Homo sapiens: one gene and its partners. Changing the gene in region 1 together with any one later gene gives a genetic interaction. Each region holds a gene or a part of one and is shown on either strand. Other genes may lie near its edges.

Region 1 (3,938 bases):
GTTTGTTATATAGATGAACTCATATCACAGGGGTTTGTTGTACAGACTATTTCATCACCCAGGTACTAAGCCTAGTGCCCAATAGTTATTTTTTCTGATCCTCCTCTTCCTCCCACCCTCCACCCCCCAGGAAGGTCCCAGGAGACAAGAATTTTTAAAAATTTTTTCTCAGAAGAAATGCCCCATCTTCTATGCTGAAATAATTTCATCTGTTAACTTGCACCAACTTGTTTCCCTAACTTGTATCACACAGTTCAATTCAGATTTTTATTCCTAAAGCTCCAAAAAGCTAGATTTACTTTTATTTTCTTTTTAAAATATCTAGAAACCCTTTTCCCATTGTTAAATGAATTTTTACATCTACATTTGATTTCTAAATAAAATTTGTAATACTAGTTATCAACAAATAACCATAGAGCTCTGACATCGAGATAAAAGGCAACTCATGTTATATGAATGATATCAGCAACCCCTACTGGCAGAAACTCAGAATAGTACTGATAGACATTATATTTAATTCAAACCATTTTATCGTTTTATCCATGTTTAGGTCTAATCATTTAAAGTCTCCCATCCCACTCCCACCCCCACCCCTCTAAAAAAAAAGTATGTGGTCAATACTTAATTAAAGATAAGAATTTATTTTCTGTGTGACTAAGACTGTGTAGTCATGTTCAGCTTAACTGGATATAATTGAAAAATGTTACACTGTGTGCGATAAAGGAAGGTATTTGCTAGTTAAGAAATCACCCATCCACCATGTTGTAATACTGCCTAACTGGAAATGCTTACTTGTGTTTCACGATGCAGATAATCATACTGATATGATGGAAGTGGATGGGGATGTTGAAATCCCTCCTAATAAAGCTGTTGTGTTGCGGGGCCATGAATCTGAAGTTTTTATCTGTGCCTGGAACCCTGTTAGTGATCTCCTAGCATCAGGGTATGTTTCTCAAAGTGATACTAAAATGACTTAAAAATATCTTATTGAACATTTTATAAACATATGCATTATTCAGGTTTTCTGTTGTTGCTTAGTTGTGGCCATTTTGTCTCTGTAAATTTTTTATTCCTTCATGAAGTAATTGTAGAATTTTTAATTAAACTTACTATTTCGAGAATGCTTGGGGGTCCCAACGTGTAGAATGGGAAAAATACTGGAAATGAAAATTCGTGATAGTCGTTTTTATTTGCCTTATTAATATTCAGATGTAAATATGTTGCCTTGTTCTGATACGTGAGAATGTCATGAGGATCTAAAATATATTGCATACTTTTATAGGTCTGGAGACTCAACAGCAAGAATATGGAATCTTAGTGAGAACAGCACCAGTGGCTCTACACAGTTAGTACTTAGACATTGTATACGAGAAGGAGGGCAAGATGTTCCAAGCAACAAGGATGTCACATCTCTAGATTGGAATGTGAGTATCACTATATCCATGATGGATATAATTACTAGTATACCTAACCCTCAGAGCCTCATACTCACGGCAGGGTTTGTCTATTTGTTCAGAATTTGGGGTTTTATTAACTAGTAACAACAAACCGGGAGTCGTCCCCTGCCAGCCCTCTCCCCCACTGTGGGACACAGACTTGCCTTAGTCAGACCAAGGTTCAACATCCAGCTCTTCAGTGTATCCCACAGCATATCCTTGGTTAAATTGTTACTTTTTACTCTGTACTTCATTTTCTTTAAATGTCAAGTAGAAGTGTGAAAATGGTACCTAAATATTTGAGATAATAGGTGAAAATTCTTACCATAATAACAAACAACATACTAAATCTATAACAACCGAGTCCTTAGGGGATAAAAGAATTCTGTGTAGCAAAAAACATGTTCTTGTTTTTCTCTGTATTCTGTGAACTGGTAGAACTTTATTACCAATTTCCTTTTAGGGATCATTAGTCTAGACAACGTCTGAATTTTATTCCCACTGTAGGAATCTTGTAATTCTCTGATTCTGTGTATGATTCAACATCTTTCAGGACAACTTGACTACTGTGACTTACAAAAAACTTTGACTTCGTTGTTGATAAATTCTCACCATTATAGTTTTAAATACATCTCTTACCTCGCTCCGCTACCCCCTGCCCCTCCCCCAAAACTCTTAGATTATTTCAGCATTGCAAAGAATATCAAGATAGTTGTTCTTTGCTCAGCAAATGAATGTTCTTTTCTCTTCTGTTTAACAACCCTTTGTGGACTTTCTAAAGGATCTTCCAATTCTTTTCCCCGGGAATGAGATCTATCTTTAAAATGATTATCCCCACTAAAGTTCTCAGTTTCTGTGAAATGTTTTTTCAGAAATCATAGCTAGGTATTTTTAGCATTTTCTTCCAAAATTGCCAGCAGCATATTTACTCTTCCCCTCCATATGACAATTCTAAAAATTCCAAAGGGGTTTAGCACATTGTAGTATTATTTACTTGTAAGATCAAGACAGAATTATTTTCTTAATATGGGCCCTTATTATATTTTAGTTCAGATATCTTACAGCTTTCTTACGCTACCTGGTCCACTGGCCATGTTAATGAAATTTATAGTTTACACTGAAAAGGATGGTTAATGAATATTGGTTTGTTGAGCTTGGTAGTTCTGAACTGCATTTTATAGTTTTGAAAAGTGTGGGCTTTTAAAAAATGTGTTATTCACGGTGAACTTGGAAAACATTATCCTCGATTAATGATTCTTTTCCATGGCTAAAGCAAGAGAGCCTGTGAGATTTCTCATCTTTACAGTATTTTCCTAGTTGAGCAGTTCATGAACTAAAACATTTAGGGACTGATAGTTTAGAGGAAACTTGACATTGTGTAGGATGTGGAAATAAGCTTTTACTGTTGACTTCAACATGGCTCCCCTTCTTCTTGAGACAGAGCCCTAAGGGATGGCCACATCCCAGCAGAATTGAGTCTGCAGTTCCCAGAACCAGCATTTGTTTTTGTTTGTCACTTAGCCATACTGCTAAATGGCTTGAGAGATGTGAAATAGGTGATCTTGTTTTGAATGCCCTTACCAAAAACCATCAATAATATGTCAAGTAATGCAGGATTTCATTCTCCAGTAATGTTTACTGATTCTAGCAATAGTCTGTTTACTATAATCTGTAACTTCTGTGTTTGCATAGAGTAGGTTAGATCTGTCCTTTTATTACACAATTCATCGAGGCAAGGTGCACAGCAAGGGAATATAAGTTGAGAGAAATTTATATGGACTTTTCCTCCTGGTAAAGTAGGCAGTTGTACTTACTTCATTAACTATAAAGTCAGCCTGTGCTCTTTTCTGGCTCTTTTCCTTGTTGATCTTTTTATTGGCAAATATTTCATAGTGGGAAGGGATTAATAATAGAAAGGAACATTCAAGTATTTAAGAATCTGATCATTCGAAACAATGATATTGTTTGGATCATACCCACACACTTCGTTTTAGACAGTAAAGGATTTAGAGGAATGGCCATATAAAACCTTCTAATCATATTTTAAAGTTTTTCTTTTTTACTTCTAATAAATCATTGTAAGACTATGAATTTGATGTTCTTCCCAGTCCACCACTCTACCTTCATTCTTAGTTGTGTGAGTCTGTGAGAATACTTTTGGCATGCATGAGGTGGGGTGATGTAGATCCTGGTCCAGAGCAATCACTGTCAGTTGTTGAACTTTGGATATAAGGCCCCCATACAACATTAGTGTCACACAGTGGAAGGGTTTCATAGGCCTTTAGTGGCACTCACAAGTAGGCAAAACTGACAAGTTTTGAAGCAGAGAATGTCTTCATTCTCTTCTGTACCTGGGATTTAAACATGAAATACTTTAACAACAATTAAATACCGTATCTAGATTATATAATTAAAGAAATGTTTTTCTCTGGCAGAGTGAAGGTACACTTCTAGCAACTGGTTCCTATGATGGGTTTGCCAGAATATGGACTAAAGATGGTA
Region 2 (4,696 bases), on another chromosome or scaffold:
AAAGCTTGTCCAGTGGGTTTTCAGTGCACGACGCCCCAAGAGGTAAAAATAGGCAATTTTATTAATCTGTGGCAACTTAATTTTTGTTTGTTTTTGTCTGTTTGTTTTTGGCTAATAGTCACAGGTTTTCTTTTTAAAATTAAACTTTCTATTTTGAAGTAATTGTAGATTCATGTGCAGTTAAAAAAAAAACAACGAATAATAATACAGAGATCCCAGATACCCTTTACCCAGCTTCCCCCTGTGTAGTATCTTACATGATGATAGTACAATATCACAACCAAGATGTTAACACTGATACAGTCAGGATACACAACATTTTCATCTCTATAAGGATCCCTTTTATTAGCTTATATGGACTTCTGTCCCACCCCAACCCCCTCATTAACCCTGGTAACCACTAATATTTTCTCCATTTTATATTTTGTCATTCGAAGAATGTTCTATAAATGAAATCATACAGCATATAATCTTTTGGGACTGGCTTTTTTCACTCAGCATAATTCTCTGGAGAGTCATCCAGGCTGTTCTGTGTGTGTGTGTGTGTTGTTTTTGTTTTTTTTTTTTGTCCGAGAAGCAGTCTTGCTTTGTCACCCAGGCTGGAGTGCAGTGTCGCCATCTCAACTCACTGCAACCTCCACCTCCCGGGTTCAAGCGATTCTCCCACCTCAGCCTCCCGAGTAGCTAGGATTACAGGTACACACCACCACGCCCAGCTAATTTTTGTATTTTTTTTTAGTAGAGACAGGGTTTCACCGTGTTGGTTGTCCAGACTGGTCTCAAACTCCTGACCTTGGGTGATACGCCCGCTTCAGCCTCCCGAAGTACTGGGATTACAGGCATGAGCCACCACACCTCACCTGTTGTGTGTATTAATAGTTCATTCCTCCTTTGAGCTGGAACTGCAAAAAAAAAAGTTTTCTTAATTTAAAAATAGTTCATTTCTTTTTATTGCTGAGTAGTATTCCATGGTATGAATGTACCACAGTTTGTTTAACTATACACCATTGAAGGACATATGAGTTATTTCCAGTTTTGGCTATTACAAATAAAGCTGCTATAAATATCTGTGTACAGATTTTTATGTGAACATTAAGTCTTCATTCTCTGGGGTAAATAACCCCCAGGAGTGCAACTGCTGAGTCATATGGTAATTCCATGTGTGATCTGCCCACCTTGGCCTCCCAAAGTGATGGGATTACAGGTGTGAGCCACCGCACCGAACTTTTAAAGACATACAAAAGTAGAATAGTATCATAAGTTCCAATGTACCTATCAGCTGGTTTCAACAATTATTGAGCCTCACCCAATCTTGTTTTAGCTATACTGTCACCTACTTCTCCAGCAATATTATTTTAAAGCAAATCTAAGACATTATATAATTTTATCCATAAGTATTTCAGTAGGCATCTCTAAAAGATAAGGACTCATTTTTTTAAAAAACACATTTCCATTATTACATCTAGATTAAAAGTGAAAAATAATTATTTATTCTTTTTTTTTTTTTTTTTTTTTTTTGAGACACAGTCTCCCTCTGTCACCCAGACAGAGTGCAGTGGCATGATCTCGGCTCACTGTAACCTCAACTTCCCAGGTTCAAGTGATGTTGCCCAGGCTGGTCTTGAACTCTTAGTACCATTTTCAAATAACCATTCAGCGTTCAAATTTAAAATTGTCTTTTTTTTTTTTTTTTTTTACAGTTTTTTAAAATCAGGATCAAAGTAAGGTTCACACATTGCTGTTGGTTGATATGTTAAGTTTCTTAATCTTCTGTATAGGTCCTCCCACCCCTGCCCCTGCTGCCCCATGCAATTTATTTATTGAAGAAACTGTTAAGTTTTCCACAGACTGGATCTTGCTGATTGCATCCCCAGGGGGTAGTTTAACATGTTCCTTGAAGTTTAAAATATTCCTCTGTCTTCTAGTTCCTGTAAATTCATAGGTGAATACAGAGCCTTAATTAGGTTAAGATTTGATTTCTTCTTGGCAAGAATACTTTATAGGTGGTATTGTGTGCTTTCATTGGCTGCTTATTCTTTTGATATTAGTAGCTGCTGATGCTCAATGCCTGGGTCCATTCAATTGATTCATTGGGGGTTAGAAAAAATGATGATATTCTAATTCTGTCATTAACATTTGTTAGTTATTGTTGAGCTGGAATGTTTTCACAAAGAAAAATTTTCCCTCATCTATTTGGTTACCTGGTAGTACAGTTTATATATAAAAGACAGCATGAAAGTTTACTTCTTTCTCCTTATTTTCAATAAAATGACTTACTTCCCTAGTATTCTCATTCTCCAATTCCTCCGATGGAGTCTTCCTCTATCGCCCAGGCTGGAGTGCAGTGGCCTGATCTGGGCTCACTGCAAGCTCTGCCTCCTGGGTTCATGCCATTCTCCTGTCTCAGCCTCCCGAGTAGCTGGGACTACAGGCGTCCGCCACCACGCCCAGCTAATTTTTTTTTGTATTTTTAGTAGAGACGGGGTTTCACCGTGTTAGCCAGGATGGTCTCGATCTCCTGACCTCATGATCCACCTGCCTCAGCCTCCCAAAGTGCTGGGATTACAGGTGTGAGCCACCGCGCCTGGCCAGTCCTTTTAAAATATATATATATATATATATAAAATTATGAATTTGTGGATTAAATATATTTTTGCTACCCATTCCAATTTGAAGGTCACTTATTCATTAGGCTTTAACTATCAGGCCCTTTTACATATATTGCAGCAGAAATTATCTCCTTTGAGTCAACCCCAACTCATGTGTTTCAGATTTCAGTAATGTGATCAGCAAGAGTGACGTGAAGTCATTGGCTGAAGCTGATGAACAGGAAGTTGTGGCTGAGGTTCAGGTAAACATATTGGTCCTGTAACACATCTCGTATGTTGGCCCTTTTTAAATATTTGAGTCTAAAAATAAAAAATAAGGAAAGGTCTGTCTCAAAAGAAGTTTTATTATGAATACTTGAATATGTTTATCACATAAATGAGGAATATTGTTTTCAGAGGCAGCAAATAAACTAGTTTTGAATTTTTCAGAAGGATGTGATAGGTGATAAATGAATAAAAAGAATACCTGTTTTAAATTATATTCTCTCTCATGACAACACATTGGACAGCAAAGTTCTTTTTTATCTGAGTAGAACATTGTATCTCCTATTAGCAGTATTTTATTTTTACTAATTGATAAGTATGCATAGAGGTCTCCAGAAATATAATGTGTATAACCTTACAACCTTTATTTGTTAGATTTATTATTATTGCTACTGTTTTGTAATTATTTTAATTCTCCCACGTTGACTGTTGTTACCCAATTATTAATTGAACAATTTAGTATCTCTTTACACCTGTATTTCACAAAGTTTGGCTATATCATATTATATCACTTATGAAAATATTACTGCTTGATACAATTGAAGTTTATGGAATGACTATTCTTGGTGCTTTATTTGCAGGAATTTTATGGTGATTACATTGCTGTGAACCCACATTTGTTTTCCCTCAATATTTTGGGTTGCTGCCAGGTATGGAAGGAAAGGTTTAATTTATCAGTCGAGAGTTAATTCAGCAAATAATTAGACTTGTAAGAGAAAATTCAAATATTTTCTCTGAATATATGTTTTTAACAAAAAGGGTCGAAATTGGGATCCAGCCCAGCTATCTAGAACAACTCAAGGGCTTACAGCTCTCCTTTTATCTCTGAAGAAGTGTCCCATGATTCGTTATCAGCTCTCATCAGAGGCAGCAAAGAGACTTGCAGAGTGCGTTAAGGTATGGCATTACCTATTCCTGGTTCCAAAACATAAAGGCCATTCATTTCTCTATCATATTTCAGAAACTAAAGGAATAGTTTATTTACAACCAAGGAGATGATTGTATGTTAGGTTTCCGCGAAAAGAGGTAGGTATATGTAATTTAAAACAAAAAGCAACAATTAGAGCTAAGATTCTTAGGTTTAACCCAAGAAACATTCACAAGCTATTTAACTTTTTTTGGTCCAGTTAAACCACTTATAAAATAGGGTTTCATATCCTAACCTCTTAAATAGTATGCTACTAAACTTTGTGAGACTTTTGAATCCTTCATATGGAAGATCTATGTGGGTGCAAAGAACTATTGTTAAATGTAGTGTTTATTAATTTCCTATTTATATCATTTCTATATGTAACTAGATGGTTGCACAAACCATCTTTCTCTCTCACCCACAGCAAGTGATAACTAAAGAATATGAACTGTTTGAATTCCGTCGGACAGAGGTTCCTCCATTGCTCCTTATTTTAGATCGCTGTGATGATGCCATCACCCCATTGCTAAACCAGGTACAAAACCCTTTCTTGGCATAATAGAAGGATAATTTTAAGTGATATTCATCAAAATACAGATAGGGAAGTAAAAACATGGTCCATTTATTTGCCTCCTTATTTTTAGCTATTCTTGGTTTTGCTTTGTATTTCCTGGTGTTTTGGTATCATGATTCTTCCATCCACTGTCATCATAACTCTTCTGCTTCATCTCTCCTGTACCTTTCTGCCAGTACCTCCACCCCTAATCAAGACAGCTTCTTAATTCTGTAGATTCTATTTCCCTGTGTTTCCTTCTGTCTCCTCATTTCCATGCTTACAGCCATTGCCTTGGTCTAGATCCTAATCTCTTGCAAGAATATTGAAATAGTCATCTACTTCGTTCCCTACTTTTTA
Region 3 (5,315 bases), on another chromosome or scaffold:
CACTGCATTTAAATATCAGACAGCAGCCTAGAGATATCTTTATTTAAACCCAGGAACATGGACTCAATATTATTTTGATACAGAATGAAGACATAGACTTCATTTATTAATTTATACTCCCTAGAGTTCTTTTTTTTTTTTTGAGACAGAGTCTCACTCTGTCACCCAGGCTGGAGTACAGTGGCACGATTTCGGCTTACTGCAACCTCCGCCTCCCTGAGTTCGGCGATTGTCCTGCCTCAGCCTCCCAAGTGGCTGGGATTACAGGTACATGTCACCATTAATTTTTGTATTTTTAGTAGAAACAGGGTTTCACCATGTTGGCCAGACAGGTCTCGAACTCCTGACCTTGTGATCCACCCGCCTCGGCCTCCCAAAGTGCTGGGATTACAGGCGTGAGCCACCGCGCCCGGCCTCTACTTCCTAGAGTTCTTAGAGAATTTCTAGCTTCTGTTTCTTTAAACATGTTTTATTAGCTTTCTAAATTATGAAAGTAAATACAACTGGAAAAATACAAAATCCAAAGTCAAGGGAGTAAAAAAATGTAACTCCCTTGTTTCCCCTCCCCGCGTAACCGTGGTTAACAGTCGGTGTGCACCCTTACAGATGTTTTTTCTATGAAAATACAAACATTCGACTTGTTTCTTGGACTTTACCTCGCAGTCCGAGGAGAATCATGTGAACAGCATGAAAGCAGCATGGTCCGAAGACTGCAAACCATAACATTTCCATATCTACTGACTCTGAATTCCTGTTTCTAGAGGACCCGCACCCACGTGGCTCTGTGCATCCGCAGCAACTTGGTCTTTCTTCCTTTGCTGAGTTTGGTTAAGGGAAAGGGCCGATTATTGAGTGGGCTCAGTTCACAGGTGCCTGAAATTCCTACTTAGCAATGTTCCTTTCCAGCTGATTCCGCCTCCGAGAGCCTTAGGAAAAAATGCTAACAGTTAGGAGCGAAGCGTCCTTAATTGCTCAGTCCAATTATCTAGATGGGTCCAGGTTCGGTTTCGATTCAGAGATAAGGACCAGGGGGCGGGGACGCTTCCAGGTGAGCCCCTGGTTAGGCTTGCCTCCCCGCGGAGCGCACGCGGGTCTCGCTGGCTGGACTGGGCCTTTCAAGACCAGGTAACTTCTCCATCCGGTATCGCCAGGCTTACCTGGGGGCCTCAGAATTGTGTCAGCTGCGTCTCTGAGTCACCTTGGAACCCCTCGAAGGAGCGCGGGGCTAGGAGGGCGCATCGGTGGGCCCGGGGACCCCGCTGCTAGGTGTGGTTGGCGCCAAGGCCGCCTCTGGCCGGCGGAGCCCTGCAGTGTCCGGAGGGTGCGGTCAGAGTCCGGCCCTTTAGGCCTTGCCTCGGTATCCGCCTTGCCCCTTGGGCCGCGGCACGGGTTCGGGCCGAGCGCCCGGCATCTTGCGTTTCTGGCTTCCTGAGACGGGCGTGGGACCTCGAGGAAACCACTCTGCATGACCCCACGAAGAGAACTAAGGACCACCCCCCACCCTTCCTGTCCTGGACGGCTTCATAAGCCAGAGGATCCAGTGGCAGTACCAAGCAGGGCACCACTCTGGGTCGTGAGCACCTAAGAGGTGGAGCAAAGGTCAGACCCCAGGGTGGCCCAGGCCTCCCTCCCCCGCCTCCCCGGCGGGGCCATTCCTCACCCGCCCCAGCACTGGAGGGGGCGGCCGGGGTCGGTCTAGTTCCGGTTACAAACTGGACAGAAAAGGCCACTGGAGTCTCGCTAGGCGATGCGCCTAGTCCCCTAGCCTCAGACGAACCGCAAGAGGGGCCACCCACAACTGGAGGGGCGGAGGCTGGAGCTGAGTTTCATTAGTGTTTTTGGAGCTGCCAGGCATTTCCAGGGGGGTCGCCTTCCTAGAGGCCCCCTTTCCCCAGCTTAACCCTCGGCTTTGCAGGAGGGTGCGTGGGGGCTGGAGGGTCCCTGGAAGCCGCAGGGAGCGCGGGCCCGGGTGGGTCCTGGTACCGGGTGGGGAGAGCGGAACCCTCCCAAAACTTGGGGCGCGGGGCGGGGCCGTCGGGCGGTGACGTGAGGGGCGGGGCCGGGCCCCATTGGCGGGCGGGCAGGGGAGGGGCGGGGCCGGGCGCCCGCGGCGGCTGCTGCGCCTGGAACCGGAGCCTGGAGTGAGGCGCAGCGGCAGCGGCAGCAGCGGCAACAAGTGCCGGAGGCTAGCAGAGCCAAGCCGGAGCAGTCCCTGCCGCCGACACCGCCGGGCCGCCCGTCCGGGGCGCCGCGCATGGAGCGTGAGCTGCGGCGGTCGCCGGGCTGAGCCGCGCGGAGCGGCCGGGACGTGGATGTGGCCGCGATCTCCCGCCCTTGCCCCCGCCCCGCCGAGCTGGAGCTGCTCCCGGACAAGGTAGGGCCCGGGCGCCGAGCACCCCCGCCGGCTCCCTCCCCGCTGCCCTCTCACCGCCAGGCCCCTCTACCAGTCCCCTTCCGCCTCCCTGCTTCCCGGCCCCACCTTCCGGACACCCTGCTACCCCCGCCCGGTTCCTCGCCGGTTCCGGCTTCGTACCCGCGCCCCGGTGGAGGAAGCCGTCCCTAGGTGGCTCCTGCCGCATTTAAGCCTCCCTTACCTTCCCGCCGTCCCAGCCACCCAACCTCAGCCCAGAGGGAGAGGAGAGGGACACCGCCCGCTGCGGGGCTTTGGAACCTCCCAACCCATTCCGTGCCCACCTCGCCCTGGAGCCCGGGGACCTTCCCCCTCCTCGCTGCACCCCAACTTCCGGGGGATCCGGCGCCGGGGCGATGCGGGCTTTGGCAAGGGGCATCTGGGGCCGGGCCTCCTCATCCGGGGCGCGCGGGCATTTCGGGGAGGGGGGCGCGCGTGATTCCTCGCTCGCACCCCCGCACCCCACCCTCGCACTGCGCCGGCCTCCCGTGCCGCATGGGGAGATCAGGTGTTTTGTGAGCCAAAGAGCCGCCGGCAGCCGCTCCCCACCCCCCACCCCCAACCTCTGCCACTTCTGTCTCCGGCTCCCCCAAAACTGGTTTCTGCCAAACTTAGGGAAAACCTTTCGCTTTGACCTTTTAAAAAAAATATTCCACACTGTTTGCGTTGAATGATTAACCAGGCTGCTAGCCCGAGTCGTGGGGGTGGGGTGGGGCGGGGTGGGGTGGGTGCTGCCAGGCCAGGGAGCGCCTGAAGCCGGACTCTACGAGACACCCCTCGTGGGAAGGTGGGCGTGGGGGGCCCTGCCGGGGCTGCGGGCGCGGGACTGGCGGCTACTCCAGCACGGCAGGCGGACCCTTCTGGAGGCAATAAACCGAGTCACCCGGTTAATTTCCAGGCCACGGTATTTGAAACTCGGGGCTGGGGAGCCGCAGAACTCCCTGTACCCCCATCAAGTAGAGGAGCCGTCGGGAGACTCCCCACAAGTGTCACAGCGTCAAAGCTCATCTTTAAAAATATGTACATTTATAACCTGGGTTGGCGAGGCGGCGCTCTTCTGCCCAAAACGTAGGGGTGGTTAGTTTGTAGAGTGGGCTTAGCTCACAGGTGCCTGAGCTGTATCCCCGTGGCCGCCTCAGCCACCCCAACTTCTCAGAAAGATTGTTTAGAACAATTAAACTATATTCTTTTGCCCTTCTCTTGTTGGAACCCTACCGTAATATCCGATAGCGAAGCCAGTTGGTGAATATAGAATTCTACTTGTTAAAACAAATTCTTCCGGTATAATTATTTGTGCCTCTGGAGGTGGTAAACGAGGTGGCCGACAGGGCCGGGACTGGGAGTGAAAAGGCGGGGACCCTGGCCGAGCCAGTCCCGGGGCTCCGGTGCCGGCTTATAGTCGCACCCATGCGGATCTGACAGCTGACCCGGAGGGAGGACCGGCAGGGCAGGGCAGGGCGGTCACTTCCCATTGTCCTAACTCCTGCTCCTGGTTCTTTTGAGTAGAGGGTGGTTAAGCCTGGAGGAATTTGGGAGAGTTTTACTCGGAGCCCATGCGCTCTTAAACCAGATTAGATTTTAAGAACACAGAAGTGAAGGAGCCCCATAGGGCTGTACTTGAGTAATTTGAGTAATCCTTTTCCTCCCTGCTCAGACTTTACAAATGTGTTTATCATTAGATCTTCTGTTTGAAACTACTTTTTTAGTTCGGAATATTGCTTTTTCTCCCTACAGCAAGGGTTCACTGTTTCTCATTTAGTTTTTGTGCAGGCGGCATTTGTATGATGAAGGCCTAATTCTCTGTGAAACTGACCAGTTCTCACCCTTGCCATTCATTAGACTTGATTCTGCCACATTTAATTCAGTGATCTTGGGCAAGTTATTCTTCACCTGAGCCTCATTTTACACATCTGGTTTTGGGGATGGTGGTGTTTGCTCTGCAAGATTATTTCTGAGGACAAATAGGATGTTTGCCAAACTCCTAGCACTGCACCAGGAGAGCTAAGAAGTGCTTAATAAATGGTGGTCATTGCTGTAATCAATAGAGAAGTTCCTCCTGGCATCGACTTCCCCTTACCAAAAACAGTAACCCTGTGGTAGCCTTTTAGATTTCCCTGTCTGAGACTGAAATCAGCCACATTTGGCAGATGCACATCAGAAGGTTCTTAAAACCTAAGTAGTATTTTGAGGAAAATAAGCATGATTTGCTTGTTGTTCAAAAATTATGAATTTTTTTCTGGGCTTCTGGTGAAGGGCTGAATATATGAAGGTTTGTAGTTTTGAAAATTTTCTTGTTTTAAAGAAAAGTCATGTTTTAGGTTTCTGATAAACTAAAGTTGTGCTAAAAATAGGAAAGTAGAACTGATAATTCATAGTTGATTTTGACTATACTGTTCAGATATGTGGTTTTTTTTAAAAAAAATAGTTGCATTAGTGAGGCATCGTTGGTATGTTCTGAAGAGAAATATGCAGGGCTTTTTCAGCTGATGCAGGGATAAAAGAAAAGGTGAATCTTCTGTTTCTCAAACTTTGAAACTTAGCTTTAAATGTTTTTTTCTTTTTTTTTTGAAATGGAGTCTCACTCTCCCGCCCAGGCTGGAGTGCAGTGGTGCAATCTCAGCTCACTGCAACCGCTGCCTCTTGGATTCAAGTGATTCTCCTGCCTCAGCCTCCCCAGTAGCTGGGATTACAGGCATCCACCACCACGCCTGGCTAATTTTTGTGTCTTTAGTAGAGACAGGGTTTCACTGTGTTGGCCAGGCTGGTCTCGAACTCCTGACCTGGTGATCCACCCGCCTAGGCCTCCCAAAGTGCTGGGATTACAGACGTAAGCCACCGCGCCTGGCCTTAGCTTTAAATGTTTTCTAGCAATGCTAGGGTTTCATGAAAATCCTAATTTAGGGAT
Region 4 (5,239 bases), on another chromosome or scaffold:
CCCAGTCAGGTCCCCTTCCACGCTACGGAAGCTTTGTTCTTTCGCTCTTCACAATAAATCTTGCTGCTGCTCACTCTGGGTCTGTGCCACCTTGAAGAGCTGTAACACTCACCACAAAGGTCCGCGGCTTCATTCTTGAAGTCAGTGAGGCCAAGAACCCACCGGAAGGAACCAACTCCGGACACATGACCACTGAGAACTGTCTTCTCAAGGACCTGGGGGTTTGTCTCTTGAATTGCAAGCCTTCAAGGAGGTGGTTCTCATTCTCATTCCCAGTCCCTGTGGCTACCTTGCTCTCTTACACCACTGCTTGTCATGAAGACAGAAAAATTATGTCTCCTCTGGATAAGCATGGATTAACACACCCAGATGGCCTAGTTGCAGGACGAACCAACCCTTCACACTCCTCAGCACCTTTCCCTTAGCACACCACAGCCTCTAAAAAGCCTCCAAATTTTTGTTTCAGCAAAGTTGTGTTCAGTTCATGCTGGACCCAATTCCCTAGCAATAGTTTTCATTAAATAAAATCTAATTTACTGCTTTAACGAGTGTCCCACTTAAAAAATTTTTCTTGACAGTAAGCACATGAAATCGTTATTGAATTAATAAACTTAGGTTCTATATATGTGTAAACAGCTGAGCAGAGTTTCATTATTTTGAGCGTTCTTTTGGTATCTCCTCTCCCAACCTCCAAGAAGCTGAAATATGGCTTAAGTTATATTTTCCTTCAAAATCTCTAACTATGAAAGATGACAATTATGTCCAAGTTATCCACAGTACCTCCTGGATTGAAGTAAGTCAGCTTACTGTGGATATAGAAAGCTATCTAAAATGTCAGATCTCTAATTTCAATGCCCTGGTTTCTTTTTTTTTCTTTTTTTTTTTTTTAAGGAGACAGGGTCTCGCTGCACAGTGAGTGGCAAGATCAGGGTTAATTTGGCCTCAAGCAATATTCCCGCCTCAGCCTCCTGAGTAGCTGGCAATATAGGTGCTATGCCACCAAGCCCGGCTAATTTTTGTATTTTTAGTAGAGACGGGGTTTCACCATGTTGGCCAGGTTGGTCTCAACCTTCTGGGCTCAAGCTATCCTCCCGCTCTGCCTCACAAAGTGCTGGGATTGCAGGCCTGCGCCATGGCGTCTGGTTTGATTTCTCTTTTAAATATTTTTTTTGGCCAGGCGTGGTGGTTCATGCCTATAATCCCAGCAGTTTGGGAGGCCAAGGCGGGCAGATCACGAGGTCAGGAGATTGAGACCATCCTGGCCAACCCGGTGAAACCTCGTCTTTACTAAAAATACAAAAAATTAGCCAGGCGTGGTGGCGGACGCCTGTAGTCCCAGCTACTCGGAGGCTGAGGCAGGAGAATCGCTTGAACCCGGGAGGCGGAGATTGCAATGAGCCCAGACTGCACCGCTGCACTCCAGCCTGGGCGACACAGCAGACTTGTCTCAAAACAAAAAACAAAACCAACCAAAAAAACAAAAAACAAATGCAAAACAAAAAACAACAAAAATAAAACGAAATATTTTTTTCTCCCTATGGATTAAACACTTAAAAAATGTTTTACCACTTCTATTTCTGGGTCAACCACAATGTTCGGTTCCATCCAGAAAGACAAGTGGGTTTTGGAGAGGGTGTTTGGTTCCGCCTAGCATGCGAATTCCCATTCCCGCACAACGCTCTTCCTCCCTTCCTCCTTCCGGTAGCGTCCAGCAGGATTCCGCTGTTCCTCCAAAATCTTTGTCAGGAGAGCCATCCTGACGGTACCTTTAGGAAGCCCATAGATACCCGCCACAACCTGTGACTTTCAGGGTCAATTGCGTCTCAATTCGCACGTCTATCCAGAACCTGCGGGGACCACGTCCCCATCCTCCCGCCCGGCCTCCGCCTCCGAGGGTGTCACGTGCTAGACGCGGGCGTGAAGACAGTGTCGCCATGTTGATATCTGGCGTCGCCGTGTAGGGGAAGGGAGAGGGCGGCTGACTAGCTACCCGTAATTTCGGCTCCTGTGCGCAAGTGCGGAAGTGCGCTGGCCAGGAGCGTGATCGGTTTCCGGTCAGTGGTGTGGTACCGGGTACCCGGAGACGTGTATCGGACGGTGGGCCGCAGCCATGGCCGAGAGAAAACCTAACGGTGGCAGCGGCGGCGCCTCCACTTCCTCATCGGGCACTAACTTACTTTTCTCCTCCTCGGCCACGGAGTTCAGCTTCAATGTGCCCTTCATCCCAGTCACCCAGGCCTCCGCTTCTCCGGCCTCCCTGCTCTTACCGGGAGGTAATAAGGGGAGGGCGGCCCCGTGTGTGGTGGGAGGCGGGCGGGGGACGTGCAATGACAAAGGTCAGACGGGAGTTTTTCCTTCTGCCTCGAGCTACCCTCTGGATAGCTTGCCAGGATCATTACTGGCCAGGTTTGAGTGGGTCGGGGGCTTTGGGATCTTGGAGGTGGCAGGTGATGAGACTTGCTCTTCACGGAAACCCCCTGTTCCGAGTTGTCCAGAGTGCTGGACATTCATTCGTACCCTGGCATTCCGCAAATCTTTGCTGAATACCCGTTGTTGGTACGCCAGGTGCTGGCAGGAAATGCAAATAAATTAAACAGTGGCCCTCTCCTAGGGTACAGTAGTCTGTCTCCCACTAGGAGACTCCTAGGATACGGTAAGATACCTCCTAGGATGGACTGTGCCCCTCTCCTAGGATACGGTACACTGTCTCCTACTAGGAGATTGTTGTGATACAGTACAATATCTTCTAGGTTACAGTAAGATATCTTATAAGATGGACTGTGCCCCTCTTCTAGAAGCCTGTAATATTTGTGAAGTAGACATATACAATGCATTCCTTATCTTTTTTTTTTTTTTTTTTTTTTTGAGACGGAGTCTTGCTCTGTCGCCCAGGCTGGAATGCAGTGGCGCGATCTCGGCTCACTGCAGCCTCCACCTTCCAGGTTCAAGTGATTCTCCTGCCTCAGCCTCCCGAGTAGCTGGGACTACAGGCGTCTGCCACCATGCCTGGCTAATTTTTGTATTTGTAGTAGAGACAGGGTTCCACCATGTTGGCCAGGATGGTCTCAATCTCCTGACCTCAAGTGATCCGCCTGCCCTGGCCTCCCAAAGTGCTGGGATTACAGGTTTAACCCCCCACCCATTCCTCATCTTTCAAGACAATACATCACTTCTTCCAAGAAGCTGTTTCTTGTTCTCTTAGGCCCCCACTCCTATGTGCACTCCTAGCTCTTTTTTCATATTTGTATTATTGTCCAGGGAGATTGCTTTTTGATGATTATGTAGCATTGCCCAGAGCATAGTGTTTAAGAGCACAGACTGTCTGTATTCCAGTCCTTGCCCTGCCAGTAACTTGCTGTGTGACTGTAGGCATTTTACTTTACCTCTCTGTGCTTCAGTTTCTATGTATGTGTAGCCTCACAGAATTGTAATTAGAAATGCTTTAATTTTTGCAAAGCGCTAAGTATAGTGCGTGCCAGACAGTGTGATTTAATGTTTGTGAAATAAACACACCTGCCTCTCCATTTGGACTGCAGTCTTCTTCAGCAGCTATGACCTAATTGCCTTTTTATCTCCAGGATCTTATTTAGGGCCTAGTACATAGATCCTCTTTGGATGCTGAGTTTCCAGTGAATAATTTATTCTTGTTTGAAGGATGAAAGACAGTTTCATGGAGAAGCGAAGACAGGCACACTGGGAACAGCTGTACATGAAGGTTCCCCTGCCCATGTGTTATGTTTCTTCTTGATGCTTGTCACTACCTGACATGTACACATATTTGTTTATTCCACTGCACTAGGATGTAAGACCATGAAAGCAAAAACTTACTTTTATTCACGATTATATTCCCACTGCCTAGAATGGTGTGTGGTATTTAGTAGACCAATTATTCAGTAGATGTTTGTTGAATGAGTGAAAGGATGGGAGTCAAAATGATGTCTCATTTTGACCTGTGGTTGAAAGGTTAGGTGTTGCTGTCTTTGGTGAAGAACCAGCATGGTTGGAGCAGAATGCTGTGGGAGGATGCAGGAATAAATAGGGCTATACTTGGGGTTTTCTAATTATCCTCTGCACCATTAAAGTTGTTTGGTTATGTCCGTCTTCCTTGCTATGTAGTGTTTGGTTTGTGTGTGTCACTGTGAATTCATGCTAAACGTTTTCATTGTTAAGTCTGGTATAGCTACACCTGTCTTTAATGCTTTTGTTTCTTGGAGACAGTCTGTGTGTGTGTGTGTGTGTGTGTGTGTGTGTGTGTGTGTGTGTGAATATTAATAATTTTAGAACTAAAATTCATCTCTAAAAATCTCAGAAACCCATTCAGAGAATTTCCAGAGACAAAAGAAGAACCTGTCTCCCTGGAAGCAACAGTTAATCATATAAGTGGAAGAGAGACACAGGAAGCAATTTCATACATTCAGCAGACATGGAAGGCCTGGCACAGTGGCTCACGCCTGTAATCCCAGCACTTTGTGGGGCTGAGGCGGGTGGATCACCTGAGGTCAGGAGTTCAAGACCAACCTGGCCAACATGGTGAAACCCCATCTCAACTAAAAACACAAAAGTTAGTTGGATGTGGTGGTGGGCGCCTGTAATCCCAGCTACTCGGGAGGCTGAGGCATGAGAATCGCTTGAGGAGGAGGTTGCAGTGAGCTGAGGTCATGTCACTGCACACTCCACCCTGGGCGACAGAGTGAGACTCCATCTCAAAAACAAAAACCAGACATGGATTGAGCAGTTTCTATTTGCCAGGCACTGTTCCAGAACCTGGGAGACACAGAAGAGCAGACAGCCCTGCCCTCAATGACTGCACAGTATGTGTGTATACACACACACCCACCTGTGTAAGCAACTGTGATACAGGTTTAGAACAGTTAGAAAGAGGGATTGATAGATGGCTATGAATGCTACGGGTATCAGGCTGGCTGAGCCGGGGAATGGATGTCCCTTAGGCCTTCAGGGCCTCTTAGGGGAGGTGATGCTTGAGCTGAGTGTTGAAGGATACATAGAAGTGAGGGAAACTGGAGAGACAGGCATATGTGAAGTCTGAAGGTGTGAAAAAATCTTCAGATTTGGCAGGAGTTAGTGGTTGGTGGAATGGGACAGGGATGGAGCTCATCCCTCTCTCCTGTCCCTTCACCTTTGTCTCCTCTCCCCTGTGTCCTCTGCCCCCAGTAGATCACTTTGACTAGAGTGTGTGCAGTGGAGTGGCCTCAGTGATCTATGGGCCACATATGCCATA

What was found. Genes that interact genetically often act in the same process or in processes that back each other up.
Region 2: changes in TBL1XR1 (region 1) and VPS45 together harm fitness less than expected from each alone (positive genetic interaction), as found in Homo sapiens cells (one large-scale study listed by BioGRID).
Region 3: changes in TBL1XR1 (region 1) and B3GNT2 together harm fitness more than expected from each alone (negative genetic interaction), as found in Homo sapiens cells (one large-scale study listed by BioGRID).
Region 4: changes in TBL1XR1 (region 1) and SEC23IP together harm fitness more than expected from each alone (negative genetic interaction), as found in Homo sapiens cells (one large-scale study listed by BioGRID).

What each region holds. Positions count from the first base shown.
Region 1 is NC_000003.12:177,047,483-177,051,420, reverse strand, and holds part of TBL1XR1 (F-box-like/WD repeat-containing protein TBL1XR1), read left to right. Parts: intron 1-810; coding exon 811-943; intron 944-1,282; coding exon 1,283-1,424; intron 1,425-3,497; exon of another isoform or gene 3,498-3,787; intron 3,788-3,871; coding exon 3,872-3,935; intron 3,936-3,938. UniProt on the Homo sapiens protein: F-box-like protein involved in the recruitment of the ubiquitin/19S proteasome complex to nuclear receptor-regulated transcription units. Plays an essential role in transcription activation mediated by nuclear receptors.
Region 2 is NC_000001.11:150,073,462-150,078,157, forward strand, and holds part of VPS45 (vacuolar protein sorting-associated protein 45), read left to right. Parts: intron 1-2,771; coding exon 2,772-2,851; intron 2,852-3,454; coding exon 3,455-3,523; intron 3,524-3,632; coding exon 3,633-3,770; intron 3,771-4,207; coding exon 4,208-4,318; intron 4,319-4,696. UniProt on the Homo sapiens protein: May play a role in vesicle-mediated protein trafficking from the Golgi stack through the trans-Golgi network.
Region 3 is NC_000002.12:62,193,982-62,199,296, forward strand, and holds the start of B3GNT2 (N-acetyllactosaminide beta-1,3-N-acetylglucosaminyltransferase 2), read left to right. Parts: upstream 1-2,133; 5' UTR 2,134-2,374; intron 2,375-5,315. UniProt on the Homo sapiens protein: Beta-1,3-N-acetylglucosaminyltransferase involved in the synthesis of poly-N-acetyllactosamine. Catalyzes the initiation and elongation of poly-N-acetyllactosamine chains. Shows a marked preference for Gal(beta1-4)Glc(NAc)-based acceptors.
Region 4 is NC_000010.11:119,890,673-119,895,911, forward strand, and holds the start of SEC23IP (SEC23-interacting protein), read left to right. Parts: upstream 1-2,057; 5' UTR 2,058-2,110; coding exon 2,111-2,273; intron 2,274-5,239. UniProt on the Homo sapiens protein: Plays a role in the organization of endoplasmic reticulum exit sites. Specifically binds to phosphatidylinositol 3-phosphate (PI(3)P), phosphatidylinositol 4-phosphate (PI(4)P) and phosphatidylinositol 5-phosphate (PI(5)P).